4 linked regions of the Homo sapiens genome follow. The protein of the gene in region 4 purifies or fractionates together with the protein of the main gene of each other region. This does not show direct contact. Each region holds a gene or a part of one and is shown on either strand. Other genes may lie near its edges. The genes, in order: NFIA, NOP14, TAF4 and SOX6.

What was found.
Region 1: the proteins of SOX6 (region 4) and NFIA purify together in Homo sapiens (co-immunoprecipitation; one large-scale study listed by IntAct). This does not show direct contact.
Region 2: the proteins of SOX6 (region 4) and NOP14 purify together in Homo sapiens (affinity purification with mass spectrometry; one large-scale study listed by BioGRID and IntAct). This does not show direct contact.
Region 3: the proteins of SOX6 (region 4) and TAF4 purify together in Homo sapiens (affinity purification with mass spectrometry, with the first as the bait; one study listed by BioGRID). This does not show direct contact.

What each region holds. Positions count from the first base shown.
Region 1 is NC_000001.11:61,087,751-61,094,084, forward strand, and holds part of NFIA (nuclear factor 1 A-type), read left to right. Parts: intron 1-398; coding exon 399-930; intron 931-6,334.
Region 2 is NC_000004.12:2,942,582-2,946,479, reverse strand, and holds part of NOP14 (nucleolar protein 14), read left to right. Parts: coding exon 1-68; intron 69-1,250; coding exon 1,251-1,352; intron 1,353-2,253; coding exon 2,254-2,407; intron 2,408-3,898. UniProt on the Homo sapiens protein: Involved in nucleolar processing of pre-18S ribosomal RNA. Has a role in the nuclear export of 40S pre-ribosomal subunit to the cytoplasm.
Region 3 is NC_000020.11:62,058,198-62,064,531, reverse strand, and holds part of TAF4 (transcription initiation factor TFIID subunit 4), read left to right. Parts: coding exon 1-81; intron 82-6,334. UniProt on the Homo sapiens protein: The TFIID basal transcription factor complex plays a major role in the initiation of RNA polymerase II (Pol II)-dependent transcription.
Region 4 is NC_000011.10:15,980,886-15,987,219, reverse strand, and holds part of SOX6 (transcription factor SOX-6), read left to right. Parts: intron 1-799; coding exon 800-1,016; intron 1,017-6,334. UniProt on the Homo sapiens protein: Transcription factor that plays a key role in several developmental processes, including neurogenesis, chondrocytes differentiation and cartilage formation.

The sequences.
Region 1 (6,334 bases), on a different chromosome or scaffold from region 4:
TGGTGAGGTCAAGGCTGGGACAAAATTAGATATGCCTTCCTTGAAATAGGGTTAAGATTATACATTGTTATAAGCATTTAGATAAACTTCACTTACTATCTAAAGGATGGGGAGCTAGGCCCGACAGTAGTAGCTGGTGTACCCTGGTGAACATATTAAAACAGTTTTTTAATTTTCAGCAGTTTTTTTATTTCCGATCATAAGAAATGATACTGATAGTTTTCTCTCCCACCTTCCCAGACTTCCCATAGGATCCTGTGTATGATTTTGGTAACAGAATGCTCTAATCAAATTTCAAGTGAAATGAGGAATTTCTTTCTTAAGGTGACCCGCTGAAGAAAAGTTGTTTTCTTTTGTTTTCATTCTACTTATATTTTTCTTTTTGTTCATTTTCCTAGGATGAATTTCATCCTTTCATCGAAGCACTTCTGCCCCACGTCCGAGCCTTTGCCTACACATGGTTCAACCTGCAGGCCCGAAAACGAAAATACTTCAAAAAACATGAAAAGCGTATGTCAAAAGAAGAAGAGAGAGCCGTGAAGGATGAATTGCTAAGTGAAAAACCAGAGGTCAAGCAGAAGTGGGCATCTCGACTTCTGGCAAAGTTGCGGAAAGATATCCGACCCGAATATCGAGAGGATTTTGTTCTTACAGTTACAGGGAAAAAACCTCCATGTTGTGTTCTTTCCAACCCAGACCAGAAAGGCAAGATGCGAAGAATTGACTGCCTCCGCCAGGCAGATAAAGTCTGGAGGTTGGACCTTGTTATGGTGATTTTGTTTAAAGGTATTCCGCTGGAAAGTACTGATGGCGAGCGCCTTGTAAAGTCCCCACAATGCTCTAATCCAGGGCTCTGTGTCCAACCCCATCACATAGGGGTTTCTGTTAAGGAACTCGATTTATATTTGGCATACTTTGTGCATGCAGCAGGTAAGTGCGATGGTGAGAATTCCTCCCACTTTCTTGTGTGTGTTTCTTTCCTGATGGCCTCCGCGTTATGCCGGATTCTTCCTGAGCTCCCCAAGTTGCAGGCCACGTACATGAAGCCAGTGTGGTTTCAAAGATTGAGAGAGGTGCCACCTTCATTCAGGTGAAAAAGCATAGCTTTGAGCGAATTCTCACTAAGTTCAGCTCTTTTGGTAAGTAGTGTTTTCAGAGGCGTTGGTAATCAGATATGTGATATGTTTAAATCACATTTTTTGATGAGGGGATGAGAGAAGCCTCGTGAAAACCCTTTTAATAAAGAGTATATTTTAACTGACAAATGATCTAGTTTAAAAGCATTTATTTTGGTATTGAGGCAATATTTTTAGTTGGTTTTCTGCTGGGAGTGTTTTTAACCTACTGAGGCCTCTTGAACCCCTTGCCAATTAAGAAGTTGGAGGTAGATTACTATCAAATTGCTGATCATTTAGGAAGGAAAAATAATCACATTAATACGCAGACTTAGTAGCTTTGTATTTAGGAATTCTTAGTGTTGTCTCAGATAGCTAAGGGAAACAAACCAGCTCTTTCAGTAATTGATGGAGAGGTTAATATTAAAAATAACCAACCTGTATATTGCATGAACACATTGAAAAATTGCTATTGATAATTGATGTAGTGAGTTGCTTTGATTGTAAAATCTTAAATTTTTTTTCTGTTTTTTCAAGGCATGTCTTACCTGTGCATGTTTCAGTGTTTAGAATAGCATGCAGGATAAAACTATTGAGGACTGGATAAAATAATGCATTTTTACTTTGTTCCTTTCGTCTTGTTTTAGACAAAAGGCTCATTGTGCTATGTGAACGCTCAGGTCTTGTGTAACTTGTTGACTTTATATATGTACATATCGGTCTTGCTAGATTACCTTCATGGCAGTTACTTGAGCCAGATGGAAGAAAGAGGGTTGTGGAATCCTACCAGTAGGTTGTTTTGGGGTTCAAATATTTAACGTTTTTTTTTCTTTTTTTTTTTTTTTTTTTACAAAGGAGAGATGTTACCTGTAAAAACACTGCACTTTTCTTCAAAACATTTTTAATTCTAAAAATGTTAGTGAGTTTTTAAAGAAGCCAGCTGATAGCCTGTTCTCTATTATTTTTCTCAATATATGTTTTAGAAAGAGAACTTTTGTTATCCATCTGCCCTTACATAAGAAACTGGAGAAATTAGCTTTGCAAGCATGTCACATCATCATTTGCATTCTGTTGGCAGGGGATAGATGAGTATTTTAGAGGATGTGAGCTGTAAGTGTTTCAAATATTTGGGTTTTCAAAAATGTATACTTAATTATAAGAATTGCCTTTTGCTTTAGCCAATTCTGGGTAGCAAGAATGAAAAGTCAGCACCTCTCAAGTGACCTCTAAGCAGGAATAAGTAGCCCTTTTTTAACCCACTCTTAACCCTGTTGTTGTTCATTTGTTTTGTTTACTGAAAAAGTAAAGTTAAAATTTTTAAAAAATGTGTCTGCATATGTTAAGCACAGCAAAACGCAAAAAAAGTATAGGTGTTACAGGTGCTTTCAAGAAGCACTCTTTAAAATCTTGTTTTTACCTTTTAGATATTTAGAAAAATATAACCTATAAATTATCCCGAATAGATGACCAACATCGAAACTTGAAAGTGCCAACAGGTGATGCAGATCATGATGTGTGCTTCCATATAAGATAACATCAAAATGAAATACCTGTGAAGTTTTTGTCGGTGTAAGCAGTGTCCATTCTAAGTTTTCGTCTTAAACATTTCTCTGTTATTTAAAGAAATGCAATCTTTTCGCTGTTCTCATTACGTGCCTTCTTTTTCGTCGTTGGTTTGTTACTGTGCTATTGCTCCCAATCCTTGAACTAACACAGTTGTTGGTTGTTGCAATGCCTGAAGGGGTTATGTTGGTAAAATGACATTTAGAAGGTTACTTAGGAGAGTTAGCATCCTTATTGCTTATGAAAGATTTATTGACAGCAGCATAGATCAGACTACTCTTCGGTTTGGTTTTCCTGATGTATCCCAGAATCCCTTGTTATGCCTGAATGCCAGCCAAATGTTTGGCCATTGGTTTTCACGGGACCGCAGTAATGGCTGCTTCTCTGTGCGCGCAACAGGAAGACTGTAAAAGAAAATATTAAGGGTCTTTTGTCTGAAAATATTTCAAATTTGATTTAAGAGATTCAGAGACCTGTTATTTGTGGAAGGGAAGCTGCCAATACAAATATGAGGTAGATCGGTCAACTTACATACAACTGATTTGACAAGCATCTGTTATAATACTGAAGATTTGTAAACACTAAACAATGTTTTTACCTCCTTAAAAGTTTTGAGAACTTGCCAGTATTGGCAGGAGGCAGAGACTCTGAAACGTGCTTCAAGATACATGCCAAAACCATTGTGGCCTTTTCACCTATAATGCGTTTTTTCTCGCTCTTTCTTTTAAATTGTTATATTTTTTTCCTTTCCAGAATGCCTTTTTTTCCCCCTAGATGGTCATAGAAATTAGATCTTCTTTTCCTTCTGAAATTTGTGTGTAATAATTCTTGCTTTATGTGTCCACCTTTCTTTGGTAGGAAGTTGAAATCTCAGAACATACGTGAGAATACTAGAAGCAAATGCAGAATCAATCTTTTTTTTTTTAAAGCGGAGGTGATTTATTCTAAGACTTATTGACATGCTAAAATATAATACATAAACTACATTCCAGTTTTTTCCCTCTAAATCCAGTGGCATTAGAACTGTGAATTTTGTGGCTGATAAGCAGTAACAAGTGTAATGAAATTGGAGTGATTTCATAAGCCTGAGAATTTCATCTTGTTAAAAGAACAAAACCATTTTATGCCCTTAATTTGGTCTCAATTTGAGTTGTCCTTCCCATGTATCATATGACAACTTGGGGATACTATGGTATTGTGGCAAATGGTTTTCTTTGTGGGTGTGTAACAGTAAAGCTAATTTATGACCAGTCTTTACCAGATGATCTGTATCAGAATCTACAATATACCCGGCACGTGGCAAGGTCACAATTTAAGTTGTTAAGGTCATAACCTTAGCCACCAGGCATTTGACCTTTTAGATAAAGTTAACCTTTGTTCATTAGTAGGCACTCAACCGAGAAGTTTCTGGAGAGTTGTTGTTTTTTTTTTTTTAACCACTTCTGTATAAACTTCTGGTAATGTAATCAGATTCTAGAAAGATTCTCAGTCAAATTAGTTAGATTTTGTGAAAGGTTATACTTTTTAAGGACTCATTTCTTGGATAGAGGCAGGTTGCTATTTTTAGGCCATAGAATGACAGTTTCACAATTTATATTTGATATTATTACCTGCCATGGGGTAGAATAAAAGCTTGGAGGCAGCTGTGTGGGGACATTTAAAATCTAAAATTAAACAAATTAATTTATGTTTAATTCAACTAAGGCCTTTGCTAATTTTCAAGTGACATTAGGCCTAAAAGCTAAATCACAGTGAGCCATCTTCACTTTTTGCAGATGAGGAATTTTCTAACATTAGAAGTATTTTTAGCAGTCTTAAAATTCAGTTTGAAAGATTAATAAGTGACCACAATTTGTCAGGTAATTGCTTTAATTGTTAATTAGCCAGTGACAAAGCAAGTTGCTGTTGTCCTAATGGCAGCAGTATGAGTACTTGTTAGTTTTAAGGTAGAAAGAGAACACTTTTGCACGGTAATCTTTTAGTGCAGTAGTTACTGATTGCTTCCATGCTGCTACCATTATTACCTTTACTTAATTTTGCTTGCATCAGGAATAGCAAAGATCCTTTCAATCACTGAAGGAGCTGTTTCAGTGTCTCGGAAGCCTGATACCTGTCCTATAAACCTACTCAACAGTATTACTGATTACCACATTACCTGTACCATATTGTTCACTTAATTATGCTGACATGAATGCTCATTTCAAATTATTTAGATTCTTGCTAGTTTTGTTCTGCTGTACCTCATATTATTCCATTTCAGCCAAAAGAGAGCTACTCCCATTCAGGTGCATTTTAGTTTTATTTTGGCTTCGTGATTGCCATTCCTTCATATAGTAATAGAGAAAGCCGTGATATGCAGATAGACCAGATGGTCATGTTGACAGATTGAGAATTCACTTCCTACTGCTTCAGAGCAGGTGTAAGATTAGGAGTGTCTGTGTAGGGGCGTGTGTGTGCTTCGTGTGCATGTGCGTGCACATCCAGGCTGCACAGAGTGCTGTTTGAGCAATGGGAATGATTTCTTTTTTGAAATGCTAGTATTTTAAATACAGTGTAATTATACAGATAAGGTTTTCAGTGCATATAGAATATTATAATTTTTATAAATAAATCGCATTAGATTGTTACAGTTTATAATTTTATGCCAAATTAATTATGAAAATTATTTTAATTTTTAGGTAACTTCCTACATTAGTTTGAGGCAACATTGCATATCCAAAATATATTCAATATATTCTTTTAGCAGCTACATGTATGTGTGTTTACATTCAAATCTAGGACTATACGTTTTTGTAATTAAACTTTTTCAGTAACTTAATAAACACCCTAGTAGAAAGTTGTGCAGTTACTTCCTGTGATTTGTAATTATTAATAAAGTGTGTTTGGAAAAAGAATATACACTGTATATTGTATACACAATATACACAATATACACTGTATATTGTAAAACTAATATACAGTGATATTTAAATTAGGAGAGTAAGGATCACCCTATCAAACTCTAGCTTTAAGCTCAAGGTGGATTTTTTGGCTGATCAAGCTATTGTAAATTATTGATATATGGCATATTTTTAGAAATTTTAATTTATCTTTTAATTCTTCAAAAAAGATAGCAGTAGCAGTCAACAAATTTGAGATAAATATTGATTTTACATCCTTGAGTGTTTTCTGTGTAACTTGAGGATAGTAACAATATCCTTTACCTAGAATGTAGTAACAAAATCCTTTATCTGGAATGTAGTGCAAAAGATGGTAGTTCTAAGGCAGAGAGTGTACAGGAATAGGGAGAAATAGTTGTTCTGGAGTAAACCTTTGAATGGAAGTCAGTTCATTTATGGCTAAGAGGTTGAGTGTGTTGGTAAGAAAATTTCCCAATGCTTCTGGCTTGGATTTTCCTTGTCTTCTTTTCCACCCTGTGATGAATAGCATTAATTTAAACCTATTTAAGGCTAGTGTGGGAGAAACCACAGCCTTTGTTGTGGTCACTGCTGTACACAGTAGGACTGGGTGTTTCATTTGGTTAAGGCCTCAAGCTGCTTCCAGAGGACACGGGACAGCCTGTCGGCATTTTAAATCTTGCACAGAAGCAGCAACAATTCTAATTGCTCACAAATGTCAATATAGATTTTTGAAACCAATTTTGAGGATTAGACTAG
Region 2 (3,898 bases), on a different chromosome or scaffold from region 4:
ATGCGATGCATGAGATGGAAGAAATGATTGAGACCAAAGGCCGGGCGGCATTGCCAGGGTTGGATGTGGTAAGCAGAGTTCAGTCTAGGCACTGCCCCTGCCACAGAAGTTCTGTTTGGCATCACAGAAGGTGGACGACGGGTACGATGCTCTTGGCTGTACCCTGTGCTTCCAGGGTGATGTGGAGTGAGCTGCACGGCAGCGAGGGTGATCTGGAGTGAGAGTGCACGGCAGTGAGGGTGATCTGGAGTGAGAGTGCACGGCAGTGAGGGTGATCTGGAGAGTGCACGGCAGTGAGGGTGATCTGGAGAGTGCACGGCAGTGAGGGTGATCTGGAGTGAGTGCACGGCAGCGAGGGTGATCTGGAGTGAGAGTGCACGGCAGTGAGGGTGATCTGGAGTGAGAGTGCACGGCAGTGAGGGTGATCTGGAGTGAGAGTGCACGGCAGTGAGGGTGATCTGGAGTGAGAGTGCACGGCAGTGAGGGTGATCTGGAGTGAGAGTGCACGGCAGTGAGGGTGATCTGGAGTGAGAGTGCACGGCAGTGAGGGTGATCTGGAGTGAGAGTGCACGGCAGCGAGCCTGGGAGGGGAGGGCACTCCTCCACTAGCCATGGACTAACGTGTGGGTCGTGCAGGGAGATTCTGGTTTGATTCCACGTGAATGGTGCTGTATTTGGTCCAGTGACAAAAACATTGGAAGGCAAATAGAACCACGGTATTGTCCTTAAGGGCCCAAGCCTGTGGGCTGGTTTAAATTGGTCTCGGTTTCTATGTTATTCAAAGGTTGGGAGACATTTGTACGCTGAGATTTTTAACAATTTTATAACAGCCTCATGCTGTATTTTCAGCTTTAGTAACTTTAAGGAAATACTTGCTGAGATACGCTCTTTATTCTGTTGCCTGGTGTTTGTGTTGAAATGGATTCACAATAGTTAGCAGAAGCTTAAAAATGTAGGACTTAGGTTAGTGATTTTTAATCAACTCCCCAAAACATGATCTGAGCCCGTGTCTATAACCATTGTTGACTGCTTTGAAGTCTTCATGGGCCTCAGTGTCCTCACTGCACGTTTAGCTGGTTGACCCACGGTGGTTGGACGCCTGTTCTGTGACACTGAGGCCAGAGCTCTGGGCCAAGGAGATGCACCCTCTCCTCGCCAGATCCTGTTCTTGGCTCCGGAGTGTTTGCGGGGAGGGCATATGGATGGACTTCATTTACCTTCTTTAACCTGTGGTAACACTTTCTTTCCAGCTCATTTATTTGAAAATCACTGGGCTGCTATTTCCAACTTCCGACTTCTGGCACCCAGTGGTGACCCCTGCCCTCGTGTGCCTCAGTCAGCTGCTCACCAAGGTGCGTTCTCTCCACATGCGGCAGGGGTCGGCCTGCTGCACCACGGGTGGCCGGAGCCACAGCCCCTCGGGGCCTTGTGGAACATGAGTGTGGCTGTTTAAGGGCTGCAGAGACCGAGCACTGCGGTTAGGCCAAAGAGGGCCCATCTAAAAGAGCCCCGGCTCGAGCAGCCCCAGATGTGGGTGGGAGTGGGAGGGCCTGGTTTGGCACCTCAAGGTTACAGATGGTGCTACCCCAGAAAACAACCTTTCAAGTTAGTGGTGAAGTTATCCAGTGTGATGATAAGGGCTTTTGTTCCCTTTTTGGCTTAAAAAGTTCAAGCTGTTCCTTTTTCTTTATTAGGCATGTGATTGGTACATGCTTAGTGCAGTAATCGTACGCTCTGTATGGGTGGAAGGAACTTTATAATCAGTATAGCTCTGGCCAGGCGCGGTGGCTCACGCCTGTAATCCCAGCACTTTCGGAGGCTGAGGCGGGCGGATCACCTGAGGTCGGGAGTTCAAGACCAGTGTGGCCAACATGGCGAAACCCCGTCTCTACTAAAAATACAAAAATTAGCTGGGTGTGGTGCCACATGCCTGTAATCCCAGCTACTCGGGAGACTGAGGCAGGAAAATCACTTGAACCCGGGAGGTGGAGGTTGCAGTGAGCCGAGATTGTGCCATTGCACTCCAGCCTGGGTGGTAAGAGTGAAACTCCGTCTCGGGAAAAAAAAATCACTAAAGCTCTTTATCTTGTTTTCATCTCATTTGATGCTCTCGACACTGCTATAAGGTGCGGGGGTTCCCTCTGTACTTGTGAAGCTCAGTGGGGTGCGTGGTTCATCAGGGAAGCCCGGTGGTCGGCCTAGCATGGCATGACATCGTCCCAGGACAGTAACCCCCCATATGTTCCTTTCCAGTGCCCCATCCTGTCCCTCCAGGACGTGGTGAAGGGCCTGTTCGTGTGCTGCCTGTTCCTGGAGTATGTGGCTTTGTCCCAGAGGTTTATACCTGAGCTTATTAATTTTCTTCTTGGGATTCTTTACATAGCAACTCCAAACAAAGCAAGCCAAGGTGAGTTGATTTGAGGGAGGTTCCTACAAATATGTTATACTTTAGAATTTTTTTAAGTAGTTCATACTCATTGTAGAAAGTTTAGAATATGCGAAAGTAGAGGAAACACACAACCTGCCACCCGCCGCACTGTCTGTCCCTCTGTGTGAGCGTGTGCACGCGCCACATGGGGAAAAGCAGTGCTACCGGTGACCTGTGCTGTCCAGCGTGGTTGCCAGGGGCCAGAGTCTGAACTGAGACGTACCCTACCTGTGACATATGCCCAAGTGGCGAAGACTTAGTGTCAGAAATACTTAAAATATCTTAATTTTTTGTATTATGTGTTAAAATCATAATATTTTGGTATTTGGGGTTAGATAAGGTCTATTGTTAAAATCAATCTTAACTTTTTACTTTTTCTCACGTGACGACAAGGCAGTGTGAAAGTTCTCGTGCAGCTCACACAGGCCGCGCTGCTGTGTCGCTTCTCTTAACGCTCTGAATTCAGGAGCGAGGGCGGCAAGAGCAGTGTTGGGATGAGGAGCAGTCTGCACACTGGCTGCCCTCCTGGGCCCTCACCCCAGCCCCTGTGCTCCTCCCCCTTCCCCTGATGCCAGCCCTGCTCCTGGATGCTTCCTCAGCACTTGCTGCTTCCCTCTGGGGGGTGAGGAGCTGCACAGCCTCTTCCTGAGCTCTTCCATGTCTGTGGACGCCTCTCCCAGCCTGACCAGAGGTTGGACCTCAAGGCTCAGACCCCTGTCCTCTATTTCCAGCTCACCGTGCAGTGCTAAGCGCCTGCATGTCCAGGGGACTGACCTGAGGAGCAGGTGCTGTGGCATCATTCACACCACCAGCAGAGTCCCTTCCAAGAGGGGTCTGGCCCACTCTTCCGGTTCAGTGCTCCCATTCTGCCACCACCTGCCTCCCAAGGCTCCTGTCTGTCAGGCTCGGTGCTGGGCGCCAGAGGGGCGCGGCCGCCCACATGCTCCCTGCCTCCGGGAGAGCCACCTGTAGATAGCTGCAGTCCCACGTGTGAAGGGCTGTGACGGAACAGGCTGGGCACAGGTGGAGTCAAGGAAGGGGTGGGCATCTCGGCTTTGGGGAAGTGTGGGGCGGGGCCTGACCCACGCCTTCCCCTCTCGCTTGGCCCGGCACCTCTGCCCCACTGTACCCACTCTCCACCCCTCCCCGTGTAGCCACACCCTCGGCCTGGATTGCCCTTCTCCGTGGCGAGTGAATTGACTCCTGCGTCCTACAGGCCTTTGCTGACGTCTGCCCCTCAGGCCTCTCCCGCCCTCCACCGTCACCCCCGACTGACTCTCCTGTCTCCCTCCTGCCCCTCCACTTTCCTTTCTCGTGTTCTGTCTGGTCCATTTGCTCCTCTGGGTGCTGTGCACTGCCTGTCTCCCCGACAGGGGCAGGGACTTCAGTCTGTTCCCGGATGTGGCCTGAGCGCCTCATCAGCCCCATGTGTGCCTAGTAGGCCCCAGGAAGTCTGTGGCCAGCAGGCCT
Region 3 (6,334 bases), on a different chromosome or scaffold from region 4:
TGACGCCCACCGTGCTGGCCCCCCGCTTGCCGCAGCCGCCTCAGAACCCGACCAACATCCAGAACTTCCAGCTGCCCCCAGGTGAGTGGCCGCACGGGGCGGGAGGGAAGGGCGGCTCCCAGCAGCGCCAGCTGCCAGTTCCAGGAAGTTCTCCGCTGGTGGAATGCTAAGGTCATCTGTCCCGTAGGCCCGTGGCTGGAGCAGGCCGAGGGGCAGTCTCTACCCAGGTGCGGGGCCAGCCCGGGTGGCTGTCTGCGAGTGAGCCAGAGGGAGTCGGCATAGCCTGCGTCCCTGTCGCTGTCCCTGACGTCCGCGCTGGCTGCCTGTGCCTGGGGCTGGTCTGTTTCGGAGTGGCTCAGCCAGGACTCTTAGTGGAGTGGTCCTTACCTGCTCCCGCCCTATGCGTCCCTGCCCGGGTTGGTAGGCTCAGCGCAGGGGCTCCCTGGGCCAGGCGATGGGGTCTGCAGAGCTGAGGGCAGTACCTGGGGCTGTGAGTGGCAGCAGCTGTCCCCTGCTCAGTTCTGCAGTTAGGCGTGTGGCCTGTGTCCCCACTTAGCCTTTCTGCCCCTTGGTGACCCTGGGCTCGAGCCTCTTCAGTCTCCAGGCGAGGACGGGGGCGCGACGCCCCCTCCTTGAGGCTCGGGAACTCTGGATGGAAGGCTTGGGCTCCTCTGCTGCCACCAGGCAGGGAGAGATGTCAGGCGCATCCTGCGAGAGTCCTCCCGGCGCGCAGCCTTGCTGAGAGCCACGCTGTGGAGTAGGGTTTCAGCACCGTGTGTGTCACTGTCTCTTCCAGAGCTGCGTTGGTGCCTAAAGGAAGGAGCGCCTAGCTACTCTGGTTGCTGCCCCCTCGGGAGGGCAGTGGGAGGGCGGTGGCAGCAGATGTTCTCGCTCCGTGCAGGGGTCTCGGGGCGATACTGGCTATGCTGCGGATGCCTGGGGCTCCGACGCCACTTCCGCCTGGCAGTTCTCACGCTCCTGTCTAGTCTGCTGTCTCTGCGACTCCTCAGGGCCCCTCAAGTTTGACAGGAAAGATTGCCTGGCCAGCATTGCTGCTTTTGTCTGGGGCTCCCCGTCCCTCCCCAGCCGCCGTGGTGGGTGCTGGGCAGGGGAGCTCCTCCCCGGCCTGTGGTGACGCGTGCCGTGCAGTTGTAGCAGCGCGGTGGCAGCAGTAGTAGGAACTGCAAGGAGAGCGTGGGTCCCTCCTGCGTCCCCTCTCTGAATGGAGCTATTGGTCACTTTGACAGGGTTGCAGAATCTTCAGAAGTGAAAGGATTTCTTGTCCAAGTATGTGAGGTTCGGGGCTGGTGGTCAGACTCTGGACAGGGCAGGGGTGGGGAAAGCCTGTCTGGGCGGCTGCTAGGCTGCAGTGCTCCAGGGAGGAAGAGAGCTGTGAAGCTACTTCCCGGGGTTGCTGAGACGCCCTTTACGACAAGCTTTTGGGGTACTGAAGCGTTTGTAGGGGTGTTTTGCCAGAGGCTTGGTTTTGCTGTTATGTGTATGTTGACCTTTTAGTAGGAAACGTGGCTGATCTTTAGTAACGTTGTAAAAAGATGTTTGATGGCTGTGATCTATTATGTAAACTGTCACAATGCTTTATTTATAAAAATGTTTTTCCAGAGGTCCCACGTGTCTCAGCGCAGGCCAGGTGCCTGTTGCACCCCTTTGGGTAGGTATTGGACTCTGTCTTGTGGGGCTGGCCAGGTCCTCTTGCTCTGAGCCACTGCAGAGGTAAAGCCTCATCTGTCTCTTTCTTCTGGGAGGAGGTGAAGGAATACGTGGTTGGAAGAGGGCATCTCTGCTGTGTTTATCATGAGTGATCCTGGGACTCACTTCCATCTTCTGTTTTAAGATCAGTTTTAGGGTCGGGTGTGTTTGATGAAGAGACAACTTGAAAAACAACTGTAGGAGTGTTGACTGTGCGTGATTCCTGTGTGTGAGGACAGAGGAACAGCTCACACAGACGTTTGGGTGGCAGTGCTGAGAGCGGTGCTTTCAAGGAGCCGAATGCTACTATCTAAAAAAGTGAGAGATTTACCCCATCTCTTCATGGCCTCCTGCAGTTGATCTACTGATGAGGAATTTTGATTATGTTATTTGTTTCAATAATAACCAAAGCAAAAAAAAAAAGTATCAATAAAACTACCAGTATCCCAAACCAGAGTACCTTCTTTTGAACAGTACAACTTAATTCTGTAAATCAGAATGGCAAATTGCAAATACTCTGGTTACTTCCTGTAATCGATTGATCAGAGAATATTAAATTGTTCTAGTTGGTTCCGTTTTCATTGAAATATTTCGTAATAAAAATGTTTAGAACAAAGATGGAAGTAACTTATAAAAATAACTCTTGCTTGGTTAATAACTCATTCTCATTACAACTCAGTCTTGCAAACTGAGGAGGAGCCGGGAGTATTAGGGGTGGGCAGGGTTCTCAAAGCTGCATGTGGGTGTCAAGTGGAGTAGCAGACGGGTGGCAATTGGATGGGGTGTGAAAGGGCCTGCCCTTCCCAGCCTTCCCTCCGTGGAGGTCTTGGGTGGGAGAAGGGAGGGGACAGAGGTTTCACCCTGAAGTCTTTAAGGCTAAGCCTTAGGCCCGAGTGTTTCAGCCCCATAGTGCACACCGGGTATGTTGAATTTGGTTTAGGTAGCTGTCATGATATTCTTTGTCAGGACAGTGTTGTAAAGACAGTTATGTTAATGTAATTGTAATTTGCTGGTTTGAGGTGCCAGAGTTTAGATTTTATTCACTGAGGAAAAATGAGAAAACTCAGTCTTTAGTGAGATTGTTGCAGATGACACAGTTGTCCCAAGATCACGGAAAAGCACTAGTTATGTACAGCTTAGGATAGTCATAACGTCATAGTCAGGTTGTGATTACAGCTGAAAGAAGAAAAAGGTGATTTGACACCCACATTAGCATGTTGGTAAATTGTTGAGAGATCTTTTCAGATCGGTGTAAGGTAAAGAAGCTCATTTCTAAAGGTTATCTTTTGGCCTGGCAAATTCACATTTTCTTCAGTGTATCTTGGTCTATTGTGCTTTCATGCAGAATTTACTCTCCTTTTGCTCTAAGATTTGGCCCAAGTGTAGATTCCCATTCCAGGACAGAAAAGCACTTTCTCACCATGGGCCTTGATCCCTTGGCCTAGGGGGCGTGTGCTTGCTGCATGTTTTAGGATGAGTACTCCCAGGTGAATGTGTGTCTGTGGGTGCTGTCTGGAGCATTGGTTCCCATCTGTGGGGAAAGGGGGAAAATGTCCACTAGCCCTTAATCGCGCTGTTGGGACGGGTTGGATTTGGCGAGTCCAGGCCCATGCTGGGTGGCGGCATGCAGACGGCCACCCCTGAGGTTGCAGGAGCTGTGAGTTCTGGTGGCCAGTGGTGGCAGCCAGTGCTCTGGCACAAGGGACATTCCTAAAAGTTTAGATTTTGTGACTTGAGGGCCCTGTTGCCGTTTGACCTGGGAGGAATATGTTGTTCCTCGGAGCCTTGGCTTACCCAGCTGTAAAGTGGGGTTGCCCTTTTGGTGAAGAATGTGAATTCTGTCAGGTTGGGCCAGATAACATAGCTGTCAGGTGGCGCTCACTATTCCAAACTCTCCCAGTTCCCCTCATTTTTCACTGATTTTCACACATTAATCCAGACTGGATGTTTTCTCAGTGACTGAGGTGTTTGGTGTGGCAGCTGACTGGTTCTGTCAATGGGGAAGTTACCGAGGTCTGAGGTGGGTCACCCTGGGGCGGTGGTTGCCAACATAGGGGAGGGTTGCAGTGGCCTTTGGAGGCCTGGACCTGGGTGGAGGGCTCACTTTAGGCTAGAGGCCTTAATCTGGTGTTTCTTTTGACATACTCAGGTAGGAGTGACATTTGAAAAGAACAAAGAAAAAGAACTTTTGGGGAGCTGTGTAAAGACAGCCCTGGACAGCTCTGCCTAGCATAGGGCAAGGGCGCCGCTCTGGGTCTTCCCTTCCTCCCTGCCCCCTGCCCCGCGGCTGGGGTCGTCACCATCGCCTTCGGGATGAACAGAGTCATCTTGGTGACAGGTTGGGATGGACCTCACCTGCCTTTGGTGTCTCAGAGCTGGTGACCCTCATGGCTTAGTGGCAGCCAGGAGTCGGGGTCCTGTGACGCTCTTAGGAGCCTCTCTCCTCACTGCTTACTGTGCCCGAGCACTGCATTCACAGCAGAGGTCTATGAGTTTGAACAGAGGATGACGTTTGAAGTTCGTTACGGTTGCCCTGGTTCTTAGGGCCTGTGAGAAGCTTTGTAGGAGAGGGTGTCCCGCTTGCTTCTGTGGCAAATGGACCTGAGGCAGGCCCCGGGCGCCTGGGAAGTTGGCCTTCTCCCAGGGCAGAGAGCAGAGCCACCCTGGCTTCCAGGACTGCCCCCGGGCTCCCCGGTGTGCTGTGGAAGTTGCCCCTTAGACATCAGCACAGGGAGGCCGGGAGGCGGCGTCTGGTCAGAGCAGCACAGACCGGGCTCAGCAGAACAGACTGGTGGGCGTGTCCGCATCCCGAAATCAGAGTGGAATGGAGACAGTTCCTGTTCTACCTCCAAAGCCTTTTCTACTGTATAATGTGAGTTTTCTTCCACTTAAGGGATAAATTTGAAGAAAGCTTTTATAAATTGTTGGTTGTAAGTGAGTTGATCAAAGCATAATTAGCAGCTGTGTTTGAGGATCTTGAAGCAGAGGTGTAACAGGGCTCTGGAGAAGCTTGCCTGAGATTTGGGGTAATTTGCAGGGTTCCCGAAGTGCTTTGCTTTTCTTCTTCATGGTGCTCAGTAGGAACCTCCAAGCCCTCGATCATCCAGGAAACAGTTGCTGTTTAGGGTGTTCACCTGTGGTGCCCGGCTCAGGCAGCGTGATGGGGGCGTTTACTTAATCAGGCCTTTGATAGCAATAAAGCAGTTAAATAAAGGGGGCTTTTGGCTGCAGGCCCTTCTGTGCCGAGTGCTGTGCACCTGGGCTTCCTGGACGCTTCTGCTTCCAGGTGGGCCTGCGGTTGCTATGGCATTGTGGTGTCAGCTGCAAACACGTACACAGCTGTTCTTTCCAATTCTTGCGTGGAATAATGAAGTAGAATAAGTGCTGTCAAGTTATGTTCGAAAATGGGGTGCTTAATATTTCCATGGTTGGACCATGAAAGTTTTGAGTGAAAACTTTTGATTTTTACATATCTCAAATGAACATTTGCACCAAAGATGTACAGCTTTCGAAAAACAAAGAGATACATGTTGTCCACCATGAGGCCCCTCTCCCATTTGAGAAAGTACCTGGTGTCCGCTGTTGGTCAGTCCGCGGTGGTCCCAGGCTCTTCTCCAGGCCTGCCTTCTGCCTGGAGCAGGCCATGCTGCAGTGTGCAGGATGATGTAGTGAAGTGCCCCCAGCTTCTCCCACCGTGGGTGTCATGTTGTGGAGCAGAAGTTGTCGTTGGGAACCGCGTGTGAGGGCAGGAGAAATTGTTTGTTGGGAGCCGCATGTGGGGACAGGAGAAGTTGTCTGTTGGGGACTGTGTTTGGGGACTGGAGAGGTTGGCCCCCCGAGCCCCATTGTCTGTGGCCTGGTGTGTAGACCTGTGTCCGTCCTTCCTGAGGTCTTGCTGAGGTTGGCCCCCGAGCCCCATTGTCTGTGGCCTGGTGTGTAGACCTGTGTCCGTCCTTCCTGAGGTCTTGCTGAGGTTGGCCCCCGAGCCCCATTGTCTGTGGCCTGGTGTGTAGACCTGTGTCCGTCCTTCCTGAGGTCTTGCTGAGGTTGGCCCCCGAGCCCCATTGTCTGTGGCCTGGTGTGTAGGCCTGTGTCCGTCCTTCCTGAGGTCTTGCTGAGGTTGGCCCCCCGAGCCCCATTGTCTGTGGCCTGGTGTGTAGGCCTGTGTCCGTCCTTCCTGAGGTCTTGCTGAGGTTGGCCCCCCGAGCCCCATTGTCTGTGGCCTGGTGTGTAGACCTGTGTCCGTCCTTCCTGAGGTCTTGCTGAGGTTGGCCCCCGAGCCCCATTGTCTGTGGCCTGGTGTGTAGACCTGTGTCCGTCCTTCCTGAGGTCTTGCTGAGGTTGGCCCCCGAGCCCCATTGTCTGTGGCCTGGTGTGTAGACCTGTGTCCGTCCTTCCTGAGGTCTTGCTGAGGTTGGCCCCCCGAGCCCCATTGTCTGTGGCCTGGTGTGTAGACCTGTGTCCGTCCTTCCTGAGGTCTTGCTGAGGTTGGCCCCCCGAGCCCCATTGTCTGTGGCCTGGTGTGTAGACCTGTGTCCGTCCTTCCTGAGGTCTTGCTGAGGTTGGCCCCCGAGCCCCATTGTCTGTGGCCTGGTGTGTAGGCCTGTGTCCGTCCTTCCTGAGGTCT
Region 4 (6,334 bases):
AGCTGTTACCGCTTTATTCACCAGCGAGACACAAAAATGCAATTTGATACATGTAAAAAAACACATCCCCTCTTCATCAAGTGTTTAGATAATTCTTTATAAACAATATTAGAGAAGTGAATACTTATCCTTCTTCCTGTATAAACCGTATTAAAATTTTTGTACTTTTATTGGTACAGCTTTGAATGAGCGTTTATAGTACTTGAAAATGGTATATATAATTCCAATGGTATCTTCCGGTTCTAAAGCTATAACTTCTTAGGTAGAGCTTAGGTTTTTTAATTACCTAGGCCATGGCAGACTTGTGCACAGTAGTTTTTTATATATGGAATGATTTCAACATCTGCTGACATCTTGTCAAAGGATAGTTTCACTAAAGATACTTGGAGTTTGGGAGATGTTTGAATTTCTAGGACAAACAAAGCTTTTCCTGAGAATCCTGTCATGCTCAAAAGTATGCTTAGGAGGTTTAGCCTTTTATCCCTGTTGAGAGGGTAGGCAGGTGGATGGGGAAAGACCTTGGTGTAGGCAATGATCTTTAAGCAGCAAAGATATATTTTAAAATACTATAGTAGCATCAGTCTTAAACTATTGAGATAAATAACACAAGAAAGTATCATACGCAAAATTGTTCTTTGTGTTATAGACTAAAAGTATAGTTGGGACAGCCAGTGGTATGTGGGAATTGGAGCCACCCAGCGCACAGATGAGTGAAGTGATGGGAAGGTATATCTAGTTGTGTTTGCCTAGAATATGTTGCCTTGACCACTTGGGTACTTAAGGCTATTTTTATTTCTAGGATCTCGCTGGAAATCAATGTCCAACCAGGAGAAGCAACCTTATTATGAAGAGCAGGCCCGGCTAAGCAAGATCCACTTAGAGAAGTACCCAAACTATAAATACAAACCCCGACCGAAACGCACCTGCATTGTTGATGGCAAAAAGCTTCGGATTGGGGAGTATAAGCAACTGATGAGGTCTCGGAGACAGGAGATGAGGCAGTTCTTTACTGTGGGGTAAGTATTCCTGAATTTAGCCACCTGGGCTTTACTTTTGCGGTAAGTAACTATAGGATGGCTACTGGCAGTATGTTTGGGAAGGAGATTAGGGAAAGAGGAGGTTGTGGCATACTGAAGGGGCTTGGCCATGAGAATCTTTGCTGTGTCATAGGGGCACTGCCTTGCACCATGGCTTTTGCTCAAATCAAGCCAAACCTGGAACAGTTCACTCCCAGCTGATCACCCCTGTCATTGTCTCCCAAGCCAATTTAAGATGCTCAGTGGCCACACACAGAGTTTCTGGTAGTTTATTTAAGCAGATACACAGGGAGGAAAAATAAAAACTAACCTTAAGAAATCCCCATAAGCTTTCCAGCTTCTCTGGGTGGTGCTTCTGACTCTAATCACAATAGTCTGCTTTTGTTGTGGGATCTACCACAAGATAATTGGCCTCGACATTGGTTAGAGGACCTCATTTTTGGCATAAGATCCAGAACTCCTGTTGCAGTAAATTATTCTGTGGTGGGAGCAGTAACAATGTGTATTTTCTTGCTTAAATCAGAAACTAGACATGCTTTTGATATCTTCAAGTCTGATTTCATGTCATTTTGTTTAAAAATTAGGTAATAGATTTCTGGTATAAATTTCAACTTGGCTGACTGGCTGTCTGCATTCAAAAGAGGCCCCTCATAACCACAGTAGTCAGGATAAGTGGGGATGCAGATGACTGTAGATTCCAGCATACCCAGACCTAGAAGCACAGCAGGGTGGCAAATCCAGAGGGCCATTTGAGGCACAGACCTGAAGCAGCTGGACTCAGAGTAGGGAAACACTTGGGAAAGAGCTTGAGAGAGAGAAGCAGAGTAAGCAAGAGGGAAGTTGCATTTGCTGTGAAGTTGGAGGAGAATTGAGGAGCTGTGCTGTGCCAGGAAACTAAGAGAGCTTCACTTGAAGGTAGAAAAAGAGGTACCTTAAAGGAGAAGCCAAGAGCTATTCACTTTTAAGGGCACTCAAGAGGTAACCCTGTGGAACAAAAAGTTGTTTTCAGAGCATGTGTTTAAAAGGAATAGTAAATAGAGTAAGAAAACAAAGCCAATGAACGTAGTCTGGGTCATGAATCTGTGCAATACACTGCAGTGTTTTCGGGAGGAGCGTGGGCTTTGGAGTTTGACTTCTGGGGTTCACATACTGACTGTGCCACCTACCTGGGCAAGTTATTAAACTTCTCTAACTTTTGTTTTCTCATGTGTAAAATGAAATGAATAGTGGAAACTATCTTGTATGATTGTTGAGAAGATCCAATGAGGCAACGCTTTTAAAAGTACTTTATATAGTGCTTAATACGATATCAATAAAGGTGAACTCTAGCATTATCATTACTATTTAATATGTATTTCCTATCACAGAAAACCATATTTTATATCACACCAGATGATCAGTGAATTTCTTTATACCATGGCAGAACCTTTTAGAGGTAGAGAGAAGCTTAAGCCACTTTATTATAAAAGATCCCAGTATGTTAATAAATGAAGACATGACAAAATAGGATTATCAAATTCCTCTGTATTATAAATGTTTGCATTTTTAAAGGTAATGCGTTTAACGCTAAAAAGGGCAATGTGGTATAATTGGGCTATTCAGCTGATAATTAGAGGATTTATGAAAAATACTAATTCATAGTCCACTTTAAGATTATGTGATAAACATTCTCTTTTAATCCCGTTAGTACACCTCTAAGATTGTGTATAATCTCTTTTGAACAATCCAAAGTTTAAGTTTGGGACCTCTTGTGATTCCTGCCCTCCCTCAGTCATGTTCCCTGTGTATGTAGTGATACATAGTGGGGCTGTTCCGCCAGTCTGGAAGGCTACTAAAGGTGCTGTTTTAATACCTTGGTGTAATACTTATTTGAAAATATGAGTTGCAGTAATACTATTGAATTTAGTTCCCTTTACTAAAGGGTACATTAAAACAGCTCTAGATCAAAATACCACAACATGTACCAATGCATGTAAAAATAAAAAACTAAAACAATTTAATAACATCTATTATTTATTGACTATCTAGTGTATACTAGGATTTTAGATATATAAGTCACATAATTCTCTAAATAAGATAAAGAAGTTGAGTTTTAGAGAGTTTCTATGGCTACAGAAAGGTGATAAAGAGCAAAGGTTCAAATTCAGGTATTGGCCCCCATCATGCCAAATGACTGAGGAACTGTCTTTACTACTTTGTCTCAAAATATGCCTCATAGCCCTATGCTGGCAGTCATGAGTGTGGCTATGCCATCTGAGCAAGAGCTCTTAGCACTTGGAGAAAATGAAGTCTCTGCTTGTGGTATATGGTACATAAAAAGAACTTTGAAATTTAGAGACTAAGTATCCTGTTCTCAATAGTGTAGAACAGTCCTTTATGGAAGGATCATTTTAGACTGCAGAATAGGGCTACTGAAGTGCAGGCAATGATCAGAATGTCTTATTCTTTCATCTCAATGCTGAGCATTTTCCTCTGCCCAGCTTTGATAATACTTGCTATGTAGAGCCAGGTGTTATTTCTGCTTAAGGATTTGTATTCTCTTTTAAGTAGTTGTAGTTGATAGATTATTAATTTCCTGAAGTTTTTCTTTGGAAATTGATCTTTATTACATATGAGGTTATTACAAGAGTTGAGCAAAAAACAAACAAAAATTCAAATATTTCTATTGACGTTTTGATGGAATGGGTTCAGATCAATTTTTATAGCTGATTTTGAAAAGACATGCATAACTTTCAAGCCAATAAAAGTGCATATACTGCTCAACATTTTCATGCATTTTACTGACTACACAACTGTGGCTGATGAGTTAGTTTTTTTTATTACTTAGCTATTATGAAATGAATTTATCAATAATATGGAAGGGAGCAATGTTAGCCCTTGCCTTGGTTTTAACCTCTTCAGTTCGCAGAGTAAGTATCAGAATGTTGTAATAATCTGGATAAGATTATTATCTGGATTATTCAAGATAATAAATGTGTGTGTGTATGTGTGGGTATAACACACTATTATATGCTAATCTATTCATGTATGTATCTGGCTTTGTATATTTGTTTGTATGTATCTGGCTTCTCCAACTACAGAATTCTCTGAAACTCATGTGTACAGAAATAATGCCTCATTTACTATACTAATTTAATAAAGTGTTGGACACATAGCTGGTTTCAAATAGGCCCTTACCAATTCTGAGTGTGGTGTCCAGAATATTCCCTCTACTATTAATGTAGAGGGAATATTCATTAGGGTACATGTAGCTACAATGACGTCTTCCCAAAGAACTGTGACCGAATATACTTCCATTTATTTGAAACTTATTTGGTAATTTACCTATGAACTCATAGAGAATTATGCAGGTACATTCAGCCCTCTGTATCTGTGTGGATTCAACCAATTGTGGATCAAAAATATTTTTTAAAAAAATTCGAGAAAATGTTACATTATTGCTAAAGTACACTATGTAGTTAGGTCTACAGTGGTTGCATCTGTATGGAACATCTACAGACTTTTTTTTTCTTGCGTTTATTTCCTAAACAATTCAGCATAACAAGTGTTTACATAACATTTATATTGTATTAGCTATTATAAATAATGAGATTGTTTAAAGTATATAGGGGATGTGTGTAGGTTATATGCAAATACTATACCACTTTATAAAAGGGACTTGAGCATCCTCAGATTTTGTTATCTGTGGGGGTCCTGGAACCAATCCCCCATGATACAGATGTAAAACTACTATAAAATATTAAATTTGGGGCTACTTTTTTAGCAATGATAAAGATAGATTATTGAATACTTACTGTGTGCTGTGTACTCTGCTGAGTGGATTATACAGATTATTGCAAATACAACAAATTTACAAGATAGGGAATATCATTCTCACTATTAAATTGAAAAATGCAATATTCAGAGATGTTAAATAATTTGTGTAGGGCCACACAGCTAGTAAATGGCCGAGCTGAGATGTAAACCAGGCTTATGTGAATGTGAAACATATGTCCCTTTTACCAAAGGACATTGGTAAGGACACGACATTACACACACAGAGGCGGTATAGCATTGTGGTTAAGAGCATCAATTCTGGAGTCAGACTAGTCTGGCTCAAATACTAGATCTGCACCTTCTTGGCTGTAGGAACTAATACATGGCAATCTTTATTCCTCTGAACTCTCCCCTTGCCCTTGGGAAACATTTAATCTCTCTCTAACCAGTTTCTTCATATGTAGAATGAGAATGACAATACCAATGACATATGCAGGACTCTTCTTGAAGCCTGAGTAACTTACTGTTTGTAAAGTGCTTAGAACATTGCCTGGCATATGAAAAGCTTTAAATTCAAGTAAATATTATTATTCTAGAAAAATAATACTGTGTGCCAAGTATATATTCTATGTTATATTACAATAATTATTTTAGTGCCTTGTACTATAAGTGATTTGAACATTTGCATTTTAATCTTAATTTTAAAGAGGTCGAATCAATCCTATTTAAGACACCTATAAAATACAATTACATTAGCATAGATTAGCCATGCTTTTTTAAGTATTGTCCTCCTGTAAAGACCCTGGATTAGAACATTCAATAGGTAAAGTGAACAGATTATTATTATTTCTGTTCCTTCCTGCAGTATCAGCTACAGAGATATGTGACGTATAGGCTTATCTCCTAATGAAACAAACTTCCTTGTCTTTATTTATACACTTTGAAGGGTCTGAAGGGTCAGCAAACAATGGGGCTTTGCCAGCATAAATATGTAGTTACTTTGTAATTGGCAAAGCTAGATTACACTCCAGAAATATTCCTGTAATTTGGAAGTCATGTAGCAATGGTGGGCTCTATCAGGGCCAGCTTTTACTCTTTACTTAGACTGGGAGGAAGGGTTCTTAAATATCTCTGTTCATATCAACTCATGTATATACTTTTACAAACATCCACAAATGTTGTTTTGATGTGCACATTCATTATTTGTAAAGCCCAATACCTGCCAGCTATTCCTGTTTGTGAAATCTGCAGTGTTTGAATTTTGACTTTGAAATTGATCTATAAAGGAAGGAAAAAATGCTTTTTAGGAAAGCAATTTCTGATAGACAAAGCTTGAACCTGCTGGCTGGATTTCTTATTTTGTTCATTGATTTGTTAGTTAATTGGTAAGGGCCTATTTGAAACCAGCTATGTGTCCAACACTTTACTAAATTAATATGGTACATGAGGCATTATTTCTGTACACATGAGTTTCAGAGAATTCTATAGTTGGAGAAGCCAGATACATACATGAATAGATTAGCATATAATAGTGTCTTATA